Homo sapiens: one gene and its partners. The protein of the gene in region 4 purifies or fractionates together with the protein of the main gene of each other region. This does not show direct contact. Each region holds a gene or a part of one and is shown on either strand. Other genes may lie near its edges.

What was found.
Region 1: the proteins of ARPC2 (region 4) and ARPIN purify together in Homo sapiens (co-immunoprecipitation; one study listed by IntAct). This does not show direct contact.
Region 2: the proteins of ARPC2 (region 4) and HCN1 purify together in Homo sapiens (co-immunoprecipitation; one large-scale study listed by IntAct). This does not show direct contact.
Region 3: the proteins of ARPC2 (region 4) and PRKACB fractionate together in Homo sapiens (co-fractionation; one large-scale study listed by BioGRID). This does not show direct contact.

Annotation. Positions count from the first base shown.
Region 1 is NC_000015.10:89,909,074-89,914,598, forward strand, and holds the start of ARPIN (arpin), read right to left. Parts: upstream 3,880-5,525; 5' UTR 3,763-3,879; coding exon 3,671-3,762; intron 3,615-3,670; exon of another isoform or gene 2,979-3,614; intron 1,747-2,978; coding exon 1,671-1,746; intron 1-1,670. Other genes in the region: ARPIN-AP3S2 (uncharacterized protein LOC100526783), read right to left, coding at 1,671-1,746, 3,671-3,762. UniProt on the Homo sapiens protein: Regulates actin polymerization by inhibiting the actin-nucleating activity of the Arp2/3 complex; the function is competitive with nucleation promoting factors.
Region 2 is NC_000005.10:45,253,369-45,257,288, forward strand, and holds the end of HCN1 (potassium/sodium hyperpolarization-activated cyclic nucleotide-gated channel 1), read right to left. Parts: 3' UTR 1,580-3,920; downstream 1-1,579. UniProt on the Homo sapiens protein: Hyperpolarization-activated ion channel that are permeable to sodium and potassium ions. Displays lower selectivity for K(+) over Na(+) ions.
Region 3 is NC_000001.11:84,234,397-84,239,349, reverse strand, and holds the end of PRKACB (cAMP-dependent protein kinase catalytic subunit beta), read right to left. Parts: intron 4,171-4,953; coding exon 4,045-4,170; 3' UTR 852-4,044; downstream 1-851. UniProt on the Homo sapiens protein: Mediates cAMP-dependent signaling triggered by receptor binding to GPCRs.
Region 4 is NC_000002.12:218,233,401-218,238,872, reverse strand, and holds part of ARPC2 (actin-related protein 2/3 complex subunit 2), read right to left. Parts: intron 4,522-5,472; coding exon 4,476-4,521; intron 210-4,475; coding exon 23-209; intron 1-22. UniProt on the Homo sapiens protein: Actin-binding component of the Arp2/3 complex, a multiprotein complex that mediates actin polymerization upon stimulation by nucleation-promoting factor (NPF).

The DNA.
Region 1 (5,525 bases), on a different chromosome or scaffold from region 4:
GGAAAGGGCACTGAAAAGGAGCCCTGGGTGAGGGCAGCCACTCTGCCCCTTCCAACAGCCTGGGACAAACCACTCAGTTTCCCCATCACATGGGGATAACGTGATGTCTGTGTTTAAGAATATTATGAGGGTTCAATGAGATAACAGAGGGGCAAGCACAGTGCCAAGCGTGAACTGTGCTATAAGTGCTGTTTGCCAGTTGTTCAAGGCAGGTGGGTGAAATGCTCCCAGGGCCTGAAGAATAGGAGGCCACATCCTGGTGGAATCAAGAAAGATGAAGTCTTGGAGGGTAGGGAGGTCTGCCAACTGTGGGAATAAGAAGCTGTAGGAATAATATTAAAAGCCTGGGACAGTATAGGAAATAAAAGCCAAGAGGCCCTTGTGCATGTTTGAGCCACGCAGGGCACCTGGAGGCCTTCTGGGAGCCCAGGCTGGGAAAGCAAGTGGGCTTGGTTCAGGACAGGTCTTGAGTTGGCATTCGGAGTTTGGATTTTATTTGATGGACAAGGAATCCTGAAAGGTTTCTGAGCAGCAGTGAGACCCTCAGAGATGTATTTCTGGAAAGACATTTGTCCTATTGGCAGCAGGGCAGGGATGAGTTCTGGGGACAGCCAGAAGGCAGGGGGACAGGTGCAAGGTTTTATCAGGACAGGCTGAGGGCCCATCTCAGGTAAGCAGCCATGGAAAGAGGAAGGGAAGGCAAGGGAGGGGGAGGAATGGGCAAGGGCCCAATGCCAGCAGGGCCTGGCATTGCTTACCTGGGGAGGAGACAGTGAGGGTTCCCAGCCCGGTGGCTGGGAGGGCAACTGCACCATCACCAGGAATGGAACTCAGAGGAGGCAAGTTTTAAGAGGGGCTAGGAGAAGGCCCTGCCTGACGGCAGATGAGGCAAGCAAGCCCCACATCAGCATGGAGACACTGCTGGGCTCTCCTGGGCAGGCTAGCTAGGGGCTCTGATGGGTGTTCCCACCTGCCCACTGTGTGCTAAGGAGGGGAGGGTGCAGCAAAATACCGCCTGACATGAAAATAGTGCTGAGCTGTTCTCATGGGGTACAGGAGGGACATGCAGGCTCCATGTAGCACCAGGCCTCTGGCCCTACTGGAGGGGGCATTTTTAGAGACCAAGCTCAGTTATAGAGATCAAGGAGATAAGGTGGTCAGCACATCTAGGTGGGGCTATTTGAAGGGGGAGTGGAAAGTCGGAACTAGCGCTCCGAAAAAAGACACAGGCTAGTACTGGATGGTAAATGCCAGGTGTACCCACAGACACCTGAGATGGGGTGGTGATACAGGACATGACCCCAGGAGGCTGAGAGGGCAAAGGCAGCCAGGACATCAACATGGGAACTGAAGCCCCAGACACTGTCAGAGTTTACATTCAGGCAAGACTGGGGTTTAGGGCCTGGTCTGCCTTCTCAGCCATGACCCAGGCTCTTCTGGCAAGAACACAGGCCCTCCCACCTGTCTGCTGCTCAACACAGCCTTAAACTATTCTTCCAGCTGGTGGTCCCATTTGGCTATAAATCTCCTGACCTACTTCCCACTTGCTTTCTAAGCCCATCAAGAATCCCAACTCATGGCACTGGAAGGACCCAGCACAAGGAGATGCCACAGTGGATGATGACCGTGAAGTCAGTGCCCTCTAGCTAGCACCGAGGAAGCATCCTCACCTTCCTGCCATGAGTGTCCAAGATGCTGTGCCGAGATACATCGATCAGTTCTCCCTCCAGCAGGACACCATTTCCCCTGGGGATGAAAGGGAAAGAAAGGATAGCCAGTTTTGTCAGTCCTCAGCAAATCTCACCCGTGTCTCCTATTTACCCAGCCCTGAGAAGGCTGGGTACTGAGCAGCTCCTTTCCCCGTGCTTCCGACATAGGGATCTCCAAAGGGTCCCAAAGGCTGGGGCATTGCCCAGATGCCAGGAGGAACCTTGTCAGGCTGCCCTAAGATCAAGCTATGGCCCCCTCCTACAAGGCCACTGGGAGTTACTGGAACCAGAGCCTCAGTCTTATCTACAAAATGGGGAGGAAAACAGCTGCCTCACTCTGCTCCTCTGATGTTGACACAAGATCATGTGTGTGAAGGTGTTTTGTAAGCTATTAAGTGATTACTAAATACAAAAGATTTTACTTTTTTATTGGTCCAAATGTGAGGGTAGGTATCTAAGCTGCAATAAACTATTTTCCCTTTCCACCTGTTTTTAAACACTCTCATATTCCTTTTCTCATTCATATCCAGGTGGTCATTAACCCGAGGAAATGGTTATTACTGAGAGGTGAAGAAACCAAAACTCAGAAGTCTGAGACTAGTCCAAGATCACACGGTCCTTCACTGAGGGGAAGTGGACCCCTGGCTTCTCGACTCTGGTTTTCATAAAAGCAGAACGTGGAGGCTTCCTTTTTTGCATCCACAGAAATGGAGAAGCATGGGGACAGCTGAAGATGACAGTGGAATAGGGATGGGAGTGGGAAGTGAAAACTCTACCTAGCTGGTCTCTATCCAATTCTTCCCCACCCCCCACAATTATTTTTCTAAATATTTAACTGACAAAAGACTGTATATATTCAAGGTGCACAACGTGATGATTTAAGTACACACTATGTAATGATTACCACAGATTAATGAACACACCCACCAGACCCCATGCTGTACATTAGGTCCCCAGAAATTGTTTATTCTATAACTGAAAGTTTGTACCTTTGATCATTACCCCATCCCCATCCACTATCCCCTGGCAATCACTGTTCACTGTTCTACTGTTTCTTTTCTTTTGACACAGTCTTGCTCCATCGCCCAGGATGGAGTGCAGTGGCACAATCTCGGCTCACTGCAACCTCCACCTCCCAGGTTCAAGCGATTCTCATGCCTCAGCCTCCCAAATAGCTGGGATTACAGGTATCTGCCACCACGCCCGACTAATTTTTGTATTTTTAGTACAGACAGGGTTTCACCATTAGGCTGGTCTCAAACTCCTAACCTCAAGTGATCCACCCGCCTCGGCCTCCCAAAGTGCTGGGATTACAGGCGTGAACCACAGCGCCTGGTCTGTTCTGCCGTTTCTATGGTTCAACGCTTTTATAGGTTCCATATACGAGATCACACAGTATTTGTCTTTCTGTATCTGGCTTATTTCACTTAGCACAATTCTTCAGCGCAGTTGTAAATGGAATGGTCCCTTCGGCCTCATAACCCTGTGACGACAGGGCCTGGCCCTCCAAATCCTCCTCACCCAGGCAGGCCCTGCTCTGGACCAGCCCGCCCGCTGTTCCCGCCACAGCACGGCCACTGTCCCTTCTGGGGCAGGGCATGAGTCTGTGCAAAAGCAGCGCGGCAAGTAGCTGGAGTTTATAGTTACGCGGGTGGGGTGGGGCCGGAGGTCGGCGTGAGGCGAAGCCCAGCCTTCGGAGACCTGTCTGGGGGTCGGGACCCTCTCTCGAGGGCAGGCGGACAGGCGGGGAGCTTTAAGCCGATCTGTGTCATGGGGTCGCTGGGCGGGCGCGGCGGCAGGGGCGCCGGGAGCGGCGGACTGGAGGGGCGGACTGAAGGCGGAGAGGCGGCTTTGGCAACCCCAGTTTTCCCCCACCCGCATCCCACCCCCCCACCCGATCCTGTTGCGGGGTTCGAGCCGGGGCAGGGGAGGCCGACCCGAGGCCGTGAGCCCAGGCCTACCCCTGGTGGGCGGCGGGGTCCCAGGCCCCTGGCAGCCGGACGCTCTGCACCGCCTTGTTCCGGAGCGCGCCGTCGTGGTAGATGCGGCTCATTCTCCCGACCGCCCGGGCACCCCGGCACAGAGCCGGCGCACTGGGCTGGGGGCGCGGCGCGGGAAGTGCTGCAGGACGCGCGGGGACCCGCGATTCCCAGCCGGCGGATCCGGGAATGGCGCGGCCCGGCCCTCAGGCGTTCCTCGGCGGGATTTAAAGGGACCGAGCTCCATTCCTGCACGCCAGGCCGCGCGCGGCAGGAGTTGGGCTTCCGGGAGGACCCTGGCTGGGGGCTTAGCACAGTGGGGCAGAAAGGCCATGCTTTTCTCTTGTCTCTCTCTCTTCCTCATTCCTAGAGGAAGATCCCTGCCCCAGCACACGCACAAAAGGGAAATTGAGGCCCCAAGATCCTATTATAGAAGATCCTTTGTAGGATCAGCCCGGGAAGGATGGGTTTCTGGGAAGCAGGAATGGAGAACAGCCACTGGGGAGGATTGGGTGGTCAGCTTAGAAGCTGTCCATTATGCCCCGCCCGCGGCCCTACAATGGCTGAGTCAGGTATCCCAGGGATCTGTGACGAGGGAGCTGGGGCATGGGTGTCGGACCAAAGACGCCTAAGTTTGAATCCCAGCTGTGAGCTTGGGCAAGCTCCTCAACCTCTCTGAGCCCATGCTTCTTCGTCTGTAAAATGGGGTCAGTATCAGGGGGATTGTAAAGTTTAATGAGCTCACCCTTTCTACAACATAGCATTGCCCTCCCTCCTTCTTCCTGCACAGCTCCTGAACTCCTCCCTGGCCCCACAATGCCCTTTGCCCAAGTATGTCATAGTCCGCAGGTGCATTTTCCAAGCCTGGTACAGAAGATTCTTCTGACCCTGGGATTGTTGAGGAATCTTTGTTCTTTTGTTTGGCTTCTTCGTGCCAGGCCTCGGGGCAGGTGGGCCCATTCAGGGAGGCCAGGTGTACCCCGGGAGAGGGGGCGGCATTTAAAGGGGGTGGTGGCCAGGCAGGTGCCTAGGAGTCTAGCATGAGCTGTCAATGTTGGAAGAAGAAAGCACCCTCTCCCTTCCCTGCTACACACACACACACACACACACACACACACACACACACACAGACAATGACTTTCTTGGGTCCTAGGCACTTTTGTTTTCAAAGGACCCTTTCTCCATTAAAAATTTTTTAAAAAATTATTATCTTACCACTGGGTTGGCATAAAGATGAATATATGAATTATATATATATATATATATTTTTTTTTTTTTTTTTTTGAGACAGTCTTCCTATGTTGCCCAGGCTGGAGTGCAGTGGTGAATCTTGGCTCACTGTAACCTCTGCCTCCCAGGTTCTAGTGATTCTCCTGCCTCAGCCTCCTGAGTAGCTGGGATTACAGGCACTCACCACCACACCCGACTAATTTTTGTATTTTTAGTAGAGATGGGGTTTCACCATGTTGGCCAGGCTGGTCTCAAGCTCCTGACTTCATGTCACCACCTGCCTCTGCCTCCCAAAGTGCTAGGATTACAGGCCTGAGCCACTGCTCCCAGTCTAAAGTGTTTTCTTCAACCTAAACATATATTTTTTTTTCTGCATCCAATCATCCATTACTAAACATATTTTTAGGAAGAAAGAGCACCTGTAGTCCCAGCTACTCAGGAGGCTGAAGTGGGAGGATCACTTGAGCCCAGGAGTTTGAGTCCAGCCTAGGCAACATAGCGAAACCCTGTCTATTAAAAAAAATTAATGAAATTAAATTTAAATTTTAAAAGAATAAAAACATTTTGTGGACCGCTAAAAGTATGATGGGCCTAATGGATGAGTCAG
Region 2 (3,920 bases), on a different chromosome or scaffold from region 4:
CAAGGCTCTCTGTGTGTAACCAAATGCATACGTGTTTGTGTGTGTGTGTGTGTGTATGTGGGCATGTGTTTATACTTTATCATTATCAAGTTTACAAACGACAAGATGACTATTGCACTCAATTGCAGATTCTAATTGTTCAAAAGATGTGATTATAATAATGTTTAATACAGCATGTCATAGATGCTATAGTAAGACATGCATGACATCCAGCATGTCATACATTATGTCCTACTTGGACCTAAACTTCTCTCGCACTAGGCTTCAGGACAAATTTTACTGTCATGTGATATATGTTAAGAAGTAGGCTCATGATACAACACTCTCTTTTCATGGAGAAGCTTGCTGGGGCTGAGGTGCTAGTTGAGGATACTGGCTTCCTGATATTTTACCATTTACAGGACAGAGAGGAAAAACCAGCCTCATCAGTAATCAGATTACTTGGCACCAAGAAAACTGGATATAGGGTGTCAGCTGTTCACAGAAGTCATCTAGAAATATTATCTGCCAAACACCTGGAGATCATGGTTTAGGAGGAATGTCAATGGGTGGAAGCCTGCTTCTTCAGTGAAGTTGGAATTGCATGCACAGACCCTTCCACTGGGAAGGTGTGAGAGGTCTGTCCCACCTAAGTTATGGCCCAGATAGCCTGGGGTGACTTAGAAAATTCTGCTCATTGCTCTTAGAATGTTTAATGGGGGCCAAGAACTGGAATAAATTCTTTGTAAAATTTAGCTCATTTAATCTTCACAACCACCCTGTAAAGTAGAAACTATTCCAATCTCCATTTTCCGGTCATGAAAGCAGATGTAATATTGAGAGGTGAAGCCAGCTGGACTTCCTGGGTCGAGTGGGGACTTGGAGAACTTTTCTGTCTTACAAGAGGATTGTAAAATGCACCAATCAGCACTCTGTAGCTAGGATTGTAAAACGCACCAATCAGCGTTCTGTAGCTAAGATTGTAAAACGCACCAATCAGCATTCTGCAGCTAGCAAGAGGTTTGTAAAATGCACCAATTAGCACTCTGTAGCTAGGAATGTAAAACACACCAATCAGTGCTCTGTAGTTAGCAAGAGGATTGTAAAATGCACCAAACTGCGCTCTGTAAAATGCACCAATCAGTGCTCTGTAAAATGCACCAATCAGCAGGAGTCTAAAAGTAGCCAATCGCAGGGAGGATTGAAAAAAGGCACTCTGATAGGACAAAAATGGAACATGGGAGGGGACAAATAAGGGAATAAAAGCTGGCCACCCCCAAGCCAGCAGAGGCATCCCACTGGGGTTTGCTTCCACCTGTGGAAGCTTTGTTTTCACTCTTACTGCTCCTTACTCTTTGGGTCTGTGCCATTTTTAAGAGTTGTAACACCGCAAAGGTCCGTGGCTCCATTCTTGAAGTCAGTGAGACCATGAACCCACTGGAAGGAACCAACTCCGGACACAATATGACTATATAATTCTACCATGGGTAGAATAAGCAAGTAGAGCAAGACATAAGCAGTAGAGCCAGTTTTTGTAGTCAGGCTTTCTAAACACTGCAGGTGTATAGATATAGCTGATGAAGAGAAGCTCTTTGCAAAATATTGACCACATTCATTTATTTTTATAATGTCAATGTATTATTGATAGCATTAAAAATGTTACAGAAGGCAATGGACACATTGTACTGATGTGATATTAAGAAACATTGCTAGCTATGGCACCAAAATTTATGTGACATAAGGAAATTATAATACCTAACACATATTAGTTTTCTCTTCCCTGGTTCTAACTAGCAAGTGCCAGGAGGCAGGCTGGGTTAGACAGCGTGACCAAGAGTAAACTTTGGATGGTCCAGGATAAAATTATAACATAGGTGGTTTGTCGTTGCTTGTGTTTATTTAATGTTCTCTCGCTTTCCTTGTCTAGCCAAGATCCCATGCTATGTTGACTTGTCATCTCCAGAAATGTCTTCACACTTGGAAGTTCCCTTAAAAAGCCCTTAAAATTTACCTCCTCTAGGACTTACTAGTTCCAATTTTTTCAATATTAATACACATATGAATCATCTGGGGATCTTGCCCAAAAGCGGACTTCTGTAGGTACAGGGTAAGGCCAAGGACTCTGCACTTCTTGTAATTATACTTCTGGGTGATACTGACGCTGCAGTTCCATGCACCACACTTTCCACAGTGAGGCACGCAAGAACATTTAGAACTGCACATTTTAAACAGAATTGTAATATGTTAGGTTGGTAATAGATGTTAGAAGAGTTAGGCAAACAAGATTTAATTTTGAATGCTTGGAAACTAAGACCTTGAACAAATATGAGAAAGAAATGAGAATACATTTGGAAAACTCTTTTTGAATCTTTCAAATTTCTTTGGGTTATGTTCTTTCTTCCTTCAAAAGTAAATCTTTCCTTTCTCAGGAGTTTTCCTCACAAATTTAACAGGAAATAAAAACCTTTCAAGAAAGTCTCTTTGCCTCTACACATCTGAATATTCTCTGTAGAAAACGATGCAACCTGTTTTTTTGCAAAATTCCGTTATTTAAAAAAAAAAGTCTGAATAACTCTACGTTACCTGAATTCAATTATATAATCTATTGGAAACATAAAGTGGTCCTCTTTTGAAGAATTATTATATTTACTAATTTATTCAGATTTCTTCAATTGAATGAATCAATAGTATTCTCTGCTCATATGGTATTACTGAAACAACTACATAGAAAAAAATAGCAGGGCCGGGTGCGGTGGCTCAGGCCTGTAATCCTAGCACTTCTGGAGGGTGAGGCGGGCGGATCACTTGAGGTTAGGGGTTCGAGACCGGCCTGGCCAACATGGTAAAACCCTGTCTCTACTAAAAATTACAAAAATTTAGCTAGCCATGGTGGCGGGCACCTGTAATCCCAGCTACTCTGGAGGCTGATGCAGGAGAATTGCTTAAACCTGGGAGGCTGATGTTGCAGTGGGCCAAGATCCTGCCATTGCACTCCCACCTGGGTGACAGAGCCAGACTCCATCTTAAAAAAAAAAAAAAAAAAAGATGTTTCCCTTTGGGAGTAAATGGCCATTGATGTTACATTAGAAATATAATAGCTCCAAAGAATGTTCACCTTTGCCACTCTTTGGAGCGTGTGTGATATCTCCAATAGAAATTAAAGAACTGGCTTCACTTTTTTGTTTGTTTGGGTTTTTCTTGAGAAAGGGTTTTGCTCTGTCCCCCAAGCTGGAGTGCAGTGGAACGAACAGGGCTCACTGCAGCCTTGACCTCCTAAGTTCAAGCGATCCTCCTGCCTTAACTTTCTGAGTAACTAGGACTACAGGAATACACCACCTATAGTCGGGTTTTCTAAACACTGCAGGTATGTAAGTATATACTGGTCAATTAAAAAAATTTTTTTTCCTTGTAGAGACCAGGTCTTGACATGCTGCCCTGGTTGGTCTCCAATTCCTGGCCTCAAGCATTCCTCCCACTTTGGCCTCCCAAAGTGCTAGGATTACAGGCATGAGCCACCACGCCTGGCCTGAGAACTTGCTTTATTTTAGCCAAAATTATTTTATCACTTCTTTCCCTTCTCACAGGTTCTAGCTCTTATCTTCTTGTACCCCTTCCCTGCCGCAATATATTATCTTACGCAAAGCAAGTAAACTTTCAGTTTCCTATTCCCATTACTCTATTTAGCAAACCTAGGACCTTCCTTAGGACCCAGCATCCTCACAAGGCAGGGTGGGGTTGTAAATAGCCCCCAGTTTTTGCTGTGTCATAAATTATTTTATTCCTTGTTACATTAGCAAAACAGACATTTCAATGTGAATCCTCCCCGTTGATAAGCTTAAATTAAGAATATAAAGTACAACACTGTAAAACCTTTGCCCTGATGTTAAAAGCCTTTCAGAAGGTTTTTGAAATCCCTATTTCCCACTTGATCTGGGTTCCTC
Region 3 (4,953 bases), on a different chromosome or scaffold from region 4:
ACTAGTGGTTAGAATTTCAGTATGAATTTTGTTCACAGTTCACAATCCAGGTCATAACAACAGGCATAAAGGCTATTAAATAAGCATATGGAAAATCTTCAGGAAAGCTTAAATGAAAAGTACTTAACTTCACATCCAGTATTTGTGCACAAGAGAAAATTTACAGCTAAATAGATTTCAAATGATGATAGTTCTTCAGTAAAGACATACCTAGATTTTTGTAATTAGTTTTACAAGGAAATGAGAAAACTGCATTTATATTAAGCCCTGATAATGATAAAATGAAGCGAGCACTGGTATAAAAATAGTAAGCTCCATGTTATAAAATGCATAAATAGAAATGTTTGCAAGAACAATCATACAAAATGGCAAGCCATTAAAATAATTACCTAAAGAAATGATTATTTCTTGAGGTAAAAGACAACTATGGAAATACACACTAATTAACCTGTCTAAAATGAAAAGAGGTAATGTGAAGCTCAAAAACACTCCTGAAGAAAAAATTAGAAATTAATATTTCATTGTTACAATAGAAGGATGAGTGCTCTTGAAGAATCAAATCCTTTAAATATGAATATTTAGAACATTATGTTAGCAGTAATCTGAACCAATATGAGAAATGAGAAAGAAGTAGAAACACTTTTGAGAAACTATTAAATGAATCTAGCAGTTTCTTAGTAAACATCCAGTGTGAGTAGACTGGCGGATATATTCCTCCCCAATGTGCTCTGCTCCCACCACCCAGAAATCAACCCAAACACATAAAAACTAGGAATCTATAAGCATCTCTTGTATCAGCGGAAAATAAATCAGGAGATGAGGGCACCAAGTAGAATTCACGACTCAATCAATTGTCTTATCCATTGAAGGTACTTTAATTTTGCAGTTATTGATTAATTAAAAAACACAGTTGTTTTCAGCATTTCCTAGCTACAGTAGTGCATAGGAAATTCCATTCTAAACAAAGAAGTAATTAATGAAATAACAACACACCTTAACATTTTACATTGATAGGTTACAGTTTACAAGGTGCTTTCACATACATTATTTCATTTGATTCTTACAACAAGCAGAAAAAACAGTGGGAAAGATTTTTTTTTTCAGGCTTACAATGAGTATTTTCAGGCCAATGGGCAGTTAACACAAGAATATACCAAGAATGAGACAGCAATACCCATAAGCCACAATATCGTTTTTGGTAGGTTGACAGTTTGATTCAACTGGGTATTCAGCATCGGTGAGTGAGAAAGGAATTAGGACAGACACCAAGGCTCTTATGATATTCAAATAATTTTAAGAACACTGTCAGAGATAAGAAGAAAGATGCCCTAAAATATATTGCCTTATTGAGACTTACTTCAAAGCAATATACCCTTCAAAATATCAGATAAAAAGACAATCTTGTCATCGACTGTGAAAGTTAGGAGGAATCTTACAAACTGCCTAATCCAGTTCTTCCATTTTACAGACAAGAGAACTGAGGCTGAGATCATACTGATAGTTTTCCAGCCTGAAATTCAGATGTCTTGACTTTCAGTCTAGGGCTCCTTCTTACACAATGCCATCTCTTAATTATTTACTGAGCATAACATAATATCTTCTGTTTCAAATATGTAATTTTAGGTTAAATACTGATTTATGCTACTTACTTCTTATTCAAGTTTTTATCTTATTCTTGGCTAAATTGTGGCTGAAACTGGGAATGTTACATACTTTAAAAATATTCTAATTTAGTGTACTTGATTGGTCAGAAATTGACTCCCTTGACATATTTGCTCATGACAAGCTTGCTCACGGCCTTTAAATAGAGAGTAAAATGGAATGGCTGAATAGCCCTCAAAACCAACGTATGTCTAGGGATCATCTACCTAAGGTAGATTCTACAGCTGGGCACTAGTAATTTCATAGAAAAAAATATTTTTTAGAATTCATAGAAATCTTTTTGATTACTGAAAACTAAATTGTAATAATCAAATTGTCATCCCCATGACTTATTAAAATAATTTTACAATAATATACAACAAAGCTACCATAGAATTTGTAGTTTACATATAGAACACATTGGTCAGCATGTTCTTGGGTCTAAATGAAATACAAGAAAATTAAAATATTTTATACGAATGATGTTTTAAATTTATTAACATGACGATATGCCTTTGTTACACAAAACTTGCTAGAGCAGAGTATTTTATTTTTTTCTTGCACGTTTTAAATATAGATGGACCAGTGAAATCAATATCAGCATTTACATGACATTACCATGCAGAAACACTTGATAACCGAAAGACATATAGATTGGTAGAAAGAACATCTCAGACAGGTTTTTTTTATGTCTTCAAAGGTTTCACCAGGGTGTGGTACAGATGAAAAGAAGTGGTGTTAATGACCTACCTGCACCGATAATAAAGCAAATAGAATGATTATATACATTAAGATCAGCTTGATTAAAAATAAATTTTATATGCAGGTAAATTGATCATTAAAATGAACCCAGTTTAACTCTTCTCGTGTGTTGTTTTAAGGTAGGTCACTGAAACGCAGAGATAAAATCAGATGGGGAAAATTAAAAGCAAAGAAAAAAATAGCAAAACAAGTGGGTTAAGCCATGGATTCTCAACAAACACTGAACTAAATGTGCAAAAGTGCTTGAAATTTCCACCTGACAGCAATGTTGTTAAGTCAGTTGGCAAAAAAAAGTGTAGGAAAAAAACTAACCTCTCAAATACCAACATTGTATCTGCATGATCGATCAGACATTCTGTTTACTGAGAGAACAGAGGTTAGAAATTATGAAATATCTGAAAATATCATACCTCAAAATTAAAATACAATTGTGGCAGTTTTATACACTTTGTTCCCTTTCCTCATTGATGAGGCATGGGATGAAAGCAGAAGTTGCAGCAGTGCCCCTACCCTAGGCTCACAAATATAGTACACCACAATAATTAGCTGGAAACAACTTCTTTTTAACGGTTACAAAACAAAACAAATGTAAACCCTCATTTAAATATGAATACCTCTATATTGTTTCCAAAAATCAAGCCATTTTTGACTTTGCAAAGTATAAGTATTTATCTAAACCAATGTTCTTTTTAGTTTGCTTATTTTCCTTTAAAAAGTTTATGATGAGGACTATTAGAGAAAATTTAAAATTTGTCACTTTCATTAATCATGTTCTATTAAAATACTGGCTAAAATCCTTAAGGAACAGTTAAGGTTTAGAAAACTTAGAACTCTTCTCTAATACCTACAGAAATGCTGGTACCAAGTGAGAGAATCTGGGTGATGATCCATATCATTAGTTTTTCCTGCTGAATGAGACACGTTTGTCACACTACACAGGCTGGTCACTTCATTACTCAAGGAGAGGAGGATATAAAAGGAGGGAAAGGGAACTAGAACCTCTGATCTACAGCCTTCCAAATTTCTGGGTCTAGCTGTACTGTATTAGTCTACCAAAATTTATTGCCAGAATAGTGAATTCCAAGAAAGTTAGTCTTAATTTGTATAAATTTCCTTGGTGATAAGACAGTCTATCTTCAAAAATTACCAAGAGTTTTGGCAAAACCAAGTCTGAGCTACTCAAAGAAATAATAATTATTAGAAAGTTTATCTTCAAGCCATTGACCAACAACAATATTGGCAATAACTACTGAAAGCAACACTTATCCTTCCCTTCAAATATCACGTAGCCATAACACTGCCCATCTGAAACACCAACAAAATAAAATGGAGCACTGTTTAGAGAAAACCAATGAAATTGGAAAAGGAAGAAATGGATATAGGAGAGGAGAAAGACAACCCAAAGAGAAGTAAGAAAGTGGTCTAGTACTGTGTTATGGCACAGACAATGCTTGCTTAGCGGTGCCTTGTTACATAGGTGGATGCAGAGTGCGCACACGGGATGATGGCAATAAAGACCTCACTCAGTCGTTGGAATGAAGGAACTAGGTAACTGCTTCAACAAGGACGGTCTCAGCTCTACCTTATCTCTCAACAGAGTGCAAACACTGAGTGTGAGCTCAGATGTCATCTTGTTCCTCTTTAAAATTCACCAAATTCTTTTGCACATTTTTCTGTTATAGAGACACGGATATCTTCTTCTTCATAGTCATCAAAGTTGCTGGTATCTCCAGAGCCTCTAAACTTTGGTATGAATGGAGCTTCAACCTATAATTGAGAGGGAGAGAAAAATAAGAAAAAGGAAAAAAAAATTCCTGAGAGTTTCCAAACACCAAGAAAAATAAATTCCCACTGTTATTACACGGTGAAATCCTTAGATGCCATTAGGTTCCTAAAATATAATAGTGCTAGAAGAAGCAGCAAGCAGTAGGTTAGCTATTAACCTCAACATTTTGATTCAAGGAAGTATGCAGGTCAACAAAATACTTAAGAAATTTCTGGGATAAGAGGAGAAGCCAAGATGGCCGAATAGGAACAGGTACGGTCTACAGCTCCCAGCGTGAGGGACACAGAAGACGGGTGATTTCTGCATTTCCATCTGAGGTACCAGGTTCATCTCACTAGGGAGTGCCAGACAGTGGGCGCAGGTCAGTGGGTGCACGCACCGTGTGCGAGCCGAAGCAGGGCAAGGCATTGCCTCACTCAGGAAGCGCAAGGGGTCAGGGAGTTCCCTTTCCTAGTCAAAGAAAGGGGTGACAGACGGCACCTGGAAAATCAGGTCACTCCCACCCGAATACTGCGCTTTTCCCACGGGCTTAAAAAACGGCGCACCAGGAGATTATATCCTGCACCTGGCTTGGAGGGACCTACGCCCACGGAGTCTCGCTGATTGCTAGCACAGCAGTCTGAGATCAAACTGCAAGGTGGCAGTGAGGCTGGGGGAGGGGCGCCCGCCATTGCCCAGGCTTGCTTAGGTAAACAAAGCAGCTGGGAAGCTCGAACTGGGTGGAGCCCACCACAGCTCAAGGAGGCCTGCCTGCCTCTGTAAGC
Region 4 (5,472 bases):
CAGGACCAAATTCTATACTCACATGGTCTCATCATCCCTATAATGGATAACTGCCCTGTTCTCTCCTTCCTTGCCCTCTTCTTGGAATTGGAAGTATTTTTCAAAGACAGAGGCAAAACAATTTCGCTTCAACATGCCAGCTTGATGCACAATGGAATCCTTGGATGCCGGAAGATTTTCAAGGTCATATAGCAAAGAGACATTGTATCCTGGAGGGAAAGAAAAAACAAGAAACAAAAAACAACCCAGCAGTTACATTTAAAAAAAAAAAAAAAAAAAAAAGCAGCATACTATCTATACCAAGTAAACAGAGACTAGAGGCAACTAAAAAAATCTTTTTTCAGGTTCTATTGACATTTTGTCTCATTATCTGTACTTTTAACCTGGGTAGAATATAGTCTATTTCCATCTATCTCACAGGGCAAAATGAGGTGAAATAAAATCTTAATTTTTATAAGATTCTTGTAAATATATATAATTAATGTTAATCAAAAATTTGAATCAGTATCAAAGATGACTAATTACAAATATGTAATGGGAGAAAGTCAGAACCTGGGAACTCTGATTGGAAATGTACCCTTCTAGACACAGTTGTAAAGGAGCCACATATATTTCTCTGATAGTTTAATGTGCCAAGTATCAGTATGGCCAGCAAATGGGTAGCTTTGTGATAATAAGATAAACCCTTCTACGTGCCACTGCAAACTCTTTATGAGGTGGCAGGGTAGAAAAACCAACTACCTGTTCATACATATACCTCCCCAATAGCTTTTATTGGTATATATTGTACAATTTTTAAAACATTTTACTTCATTTGATCTCCATAACCACCTTTGAAGTCTGCAGGCTAGATAAGGTTACTGTTTTGCAGAGGGAAAAGGAGATTCAAAGAAGTGACGTGACTTGCCAAATGCAGCATGACACATAAGTGTAGGGCACTCTATTTTGAGTCGAACAGAACTGGGTCCAAATCCTAGTCTTGTCATTTTGTGACCTTAAAAAAACTGCTGGGTGTGGTGGCTCACACCTGTAATCCCAGCATTTTGGGAGGCCAAGGTGGGCAGATCACCTGAGGTCAGGAGTTTTGAGAGCAGTCTGGCCAACATGGCAAAACCCTGTCTCTACTAAAATCACAAATATTAGCCAGGCATGGTGGCGGGCGCCTGTAATCCTAGCTACTTGGGAGGCTGAGGCAGGAGAATTGCTTGAACCCAGGAGGTGGAGGTTACAGCGAGCTGATATTGCACCACTGCACAACAGAGCGAGACTCCAGCTCCAAAAAAAAAAAACAAAAACAAAAAAAATTGCCTGACTTGTTAATTTCCTCATCTGTTAAAAAAAAAAAAAAATTGGTGGTGGGGGGCAGGTAGGGTGGTCTGGGCACAGTGGCTCAAGCCTGTATTCCCAGCACTTTGGGAGGCCAAGGTGGGTGGATCACCTGAGGTCAGGAGTTCGAGACCTGCCTGGCCAATATGGCAAAACCCCGTCTCTAATAAAAATACAAAATTAGCTGGGTGTGGTGGTACACGCCTGTGGTCCCAGGTACTCCGGAGGCTGAGGCAGGAGAATTGCTTGAACCCGGGAGGTGGAGGTTGTAATGAGCTGAGATCGCGCCACGGCACTCCAGCCTGAGCAACAAGAGTGAAATTCTGTCTCAAAAAAAAAGAAAAAAAGAAAAAGGAGCAGGGCAGGGGGTGCGGAGATAGGGGAGAATGTTGTGAGCATTAAAAGAATGTTCAATACTTAAAGTGTGTGGAACATGACAGGTCATCAATACGGGTGCAGAACATGGACTGAAACCATTGGATGACCTGCCTTTTTACAGCATGTCCACTATGAATTCCCAGAAGCCGGCTGGAACACTTGATTATAGAATCAAATGATTAATAAGTGTCAAACTGCCTAGAGATGTTTTTGCAAGAATATTTCTACATCACTGAGGATCATTTTATATTCTAGGCAACTGACGGGAATAACTTCACCAGAACTGTATGGCTTTCACACTTCTAAGTATCTGAAACCTCATTACTATTTCATTTTTTCCCAAAAGCATTCCTGAGATCTGTATTTTTTTTTTTTTGAGATGGAGTTTTACTCTTATTGCCCAGGCTGGAGTGCAATGGCATGATCTCGGCTCACCACAACATCCGCCTCCCAGGTTCAAGCGATTCTCCTGCCTCAGCCTCCTAGGCAGCTGGGATTACAGGCATGCGCCACCAGGCCTGGCTAATTTTGTACTTTTAGTAGAGACGGGGTTTCTCCATGTTGGTCATGCTGGTCTTGAACTCCTGAATGCAGGTGATCCGCCCGCCCTGGCCTCCGATAGTGCTGGGATTACAGGCATAAGCCACCGCGCCCGGCTGAGGTCTGTGTTTTTTGTTGAGCATGGGCTCTTCGGGAGGATGGGCTAAATCTTTGCTCTAGATAATGCTTAGCACATTTTATTTAATACTGGAGAGGCACTCCAGTATTAAATAATATCAATCATCATTCTATTTTGGGTACTTGAAAACCAAATAAGCACACAGATTACAAGGTTAGATTAAAAAAGAAAAGATTTAGAGCTGAGGTTTGCTAGTTTTAGGAAGCCAAATAAGAGCAAATAAAACTATAGCTAAGGTAAAGTCTGTCTTTAAGTAAGGCTTCTAACATGATGAACAGAATATACTGAGGATGAAGAGAAGTAAAAATCTAGTATAACTTGCTGAGTTTTCCAAACGTGCCTAGATAAACCCATTAAAAAAGAGGAGGAGAGACTCTACGGTCTTTTTTTTTTTTTTCTCGAGACTGAATCTTGCTCTGTCGCCTAGGCTAGAGGGCAGTGGCGCAATCTCAGCTCACTGCAACCTCTGCCTCCTGGGTTCAAGCGATTCTCGTGCTTCAGCCACCTGAGTACCTGGTATTACAGGTGGCTGCCACCATGCCTGGCTAATTTCTGTATTTTTTATAGAGACAGGTATCTCATTATGCTGCCCAGGCTGGTCCTGAACTTCTGAGCTCAAGCAATTCACTCACCTTGGCCTCCCCAAAGTGCTGGGATTACAGGTGTGAGCCACTGCACCTGGTTGAGACACTACTTTCACACACTTTTACATTTCACACTTCTATGAAGACAGGGTCTGCAATCTGGCAATGTCTATGATTTAGTGGGAGGTAGAAGGAGGCCCAGGGACAGAAACATAAACTTTCCATGTCAGGATGTTGGCTGTGACAAGCATGCCCAAGACTTTGGACATGATTTTTCTGTTCTAGATCTGTTTGTTTCTTTCTTTTAATACCTTGATTTTGCCAAAAGCCTACAGTGTTATCTTGGCTTTTATTTCTGTGACACATTCATCCCGCCAATTTGGAGATTAAAAAAAAAAAAGGTGCTGGGTATGGTGGCTCATGCCTGTGATCCCAACTCTCTGGGAGGCGGAGGCTGAGGTGGGTAGATTGCTCAAGGCTAGGAGTTTGAGACCTCCTTACTCTGTTTTGGCAGTATGGGCAGCAGACAGTGAGACTCTGTTTCTACAAAATATTAAAAAAATTAATTGGGTATGGTGGCATGTGCCTGTAGTTCCCAGCTACCGGAGAGGCTAAAGCGGGAGGATTGCTTGAGCCCAAGATTTGGAGGAGGCTGCAGTGAGCTATGACTGTACCACTGCATTCCAGCCTGGGCAACAGAATGAGACTGTCTGAAAAAATAGGTGAGGTGATGAAATAAGCTAGCACAAGTAACTGCTGTTAAGAGTGACAGAGAACTTCCTTCTTAGAAGACTTTTCTAATCAAGGTACCAAAGTTGTAATAGTTGAGTAAAAAATATTATGTTCCAATGGTCTTACTACCTGGTTCTCACTTTGGGGTCCTGCTAAATGCCTCAGAATTTGAGACATGCCACTGAATCACAGGGTAAAAAGGCTGTTCAGTTTTTCCACTTTAAACCTCCTTTTTAAAGCAGTATAACATAGCTGTTCTATTCAAGGATGACACGGTGCCTTTCAATTCCTCTGGCCATGAATGTTGAGACAACCTATTAGAAGACTGGATTAAGAAAGGGTCTGATTTTTATTACTTGAAATCACAAGAATAGTGTGGTGAATATTCCTCTTCTTTCTCCAAATATGTAGTATGCAGAATTACTAAGGGCCGAGGGTGGGAATCAATGTTTGCTCATTCTTTTCAAAGCCATTTTAATCACCATGAACAAACAAATGTGGCCCTCTGGCTGAAAGATTAAGTAAGAGTCATGTGGCCCCATCAAGTAAATGTTAAAAATGTCACACATCAATTTTGTACCTCTACTGTGTTCCATATTGGACAAAGCAAAGCCCCTTAAAAGCTATTTTTATGGACGGAGTTGAAATTAGGAATGGGCTCATGCAGAAATATTTGTAATAATATTTAAACGAAATCCTTTGGGTAAAAAAAGCATAATATAAAAAGGACACCTCTCTTCCCATGTCATTCCATAGTTGCTCACATGACTACATACCTGATTCTGGATTTACCAAGAAACTCCCGTACACCCTCTTTAATAACTAGAAAATAAAAACAAAACAAAACCAAATACGTTAATCCAAAGGCCATGATAATTTCATTATTTTTAAAGTACTGCACTTGCCAAGCTCTTCCTAAGTTGGCATTCTTCCTAACTTTCATTTGGTGGATGGGAAAGTAGAGACAGAGGGGAAGTGGATTTAGTCACCAAACAAGTCACAAAACTGAGATGAGTATCTTTTTATGCCTGGGACAGAGTGCAATGGCGCGATCTCGGCTCACCACAACCTCCGCCTCCTGGGTTCAAGTGATTCTCCTGCCTGAGCCTCCCAAGTAGCTGGGATTATAGGCATGCGCCACCATGCCCGGCTAATTTTTTTTTGTATTTTTAGTTGAGATGGGGTTTCTCCATGTTGGTCAGGCTGATCTTGAACTACTGACCTTGGATGATCCACCCGCCTCGTCCTCCCAAAGTGCTGGGATTATAGGCATGAGCCACTATGCCTGGCCGAGAATCTTTAATCAAAGCTCATCCTTTTTTAGGACTTGACTACACCCTTAATATGTTCTCTGTTCTCCTCCAGATCCTACATTGTACTTAATCATGTTTTGTTTTCAAGAGAGCAAAAGGATGCCAAATTCCAAGTGAGAGAACAGATTGTTAGTTATCAACCTAAGTACAGACTGAGCCACTAACCCAGGTGAATAAAGAGAAAAAACCAGGACTCTCGGGAACTGATCTGTTTGTCTGCTGATCTTGTATGCTTTAAAATTACTCAGTGCATAGCCAGCTCTTAAGGCAAAGGACAGTCAATAATGAAATCTTAGCTAGCTATTAATACTGGTGTCCAGAAGGTTGTATACTCTCCATGTCTTTCCCCCCAAACCAGAACCTACTGCTGGCTACTTTCCAGGTTTTTGAATTAAATGAAAACAACAACAAAAAAAACCCAAAAAACCAAGAACCCCTTTTATACCTTCTGCTATGGTTT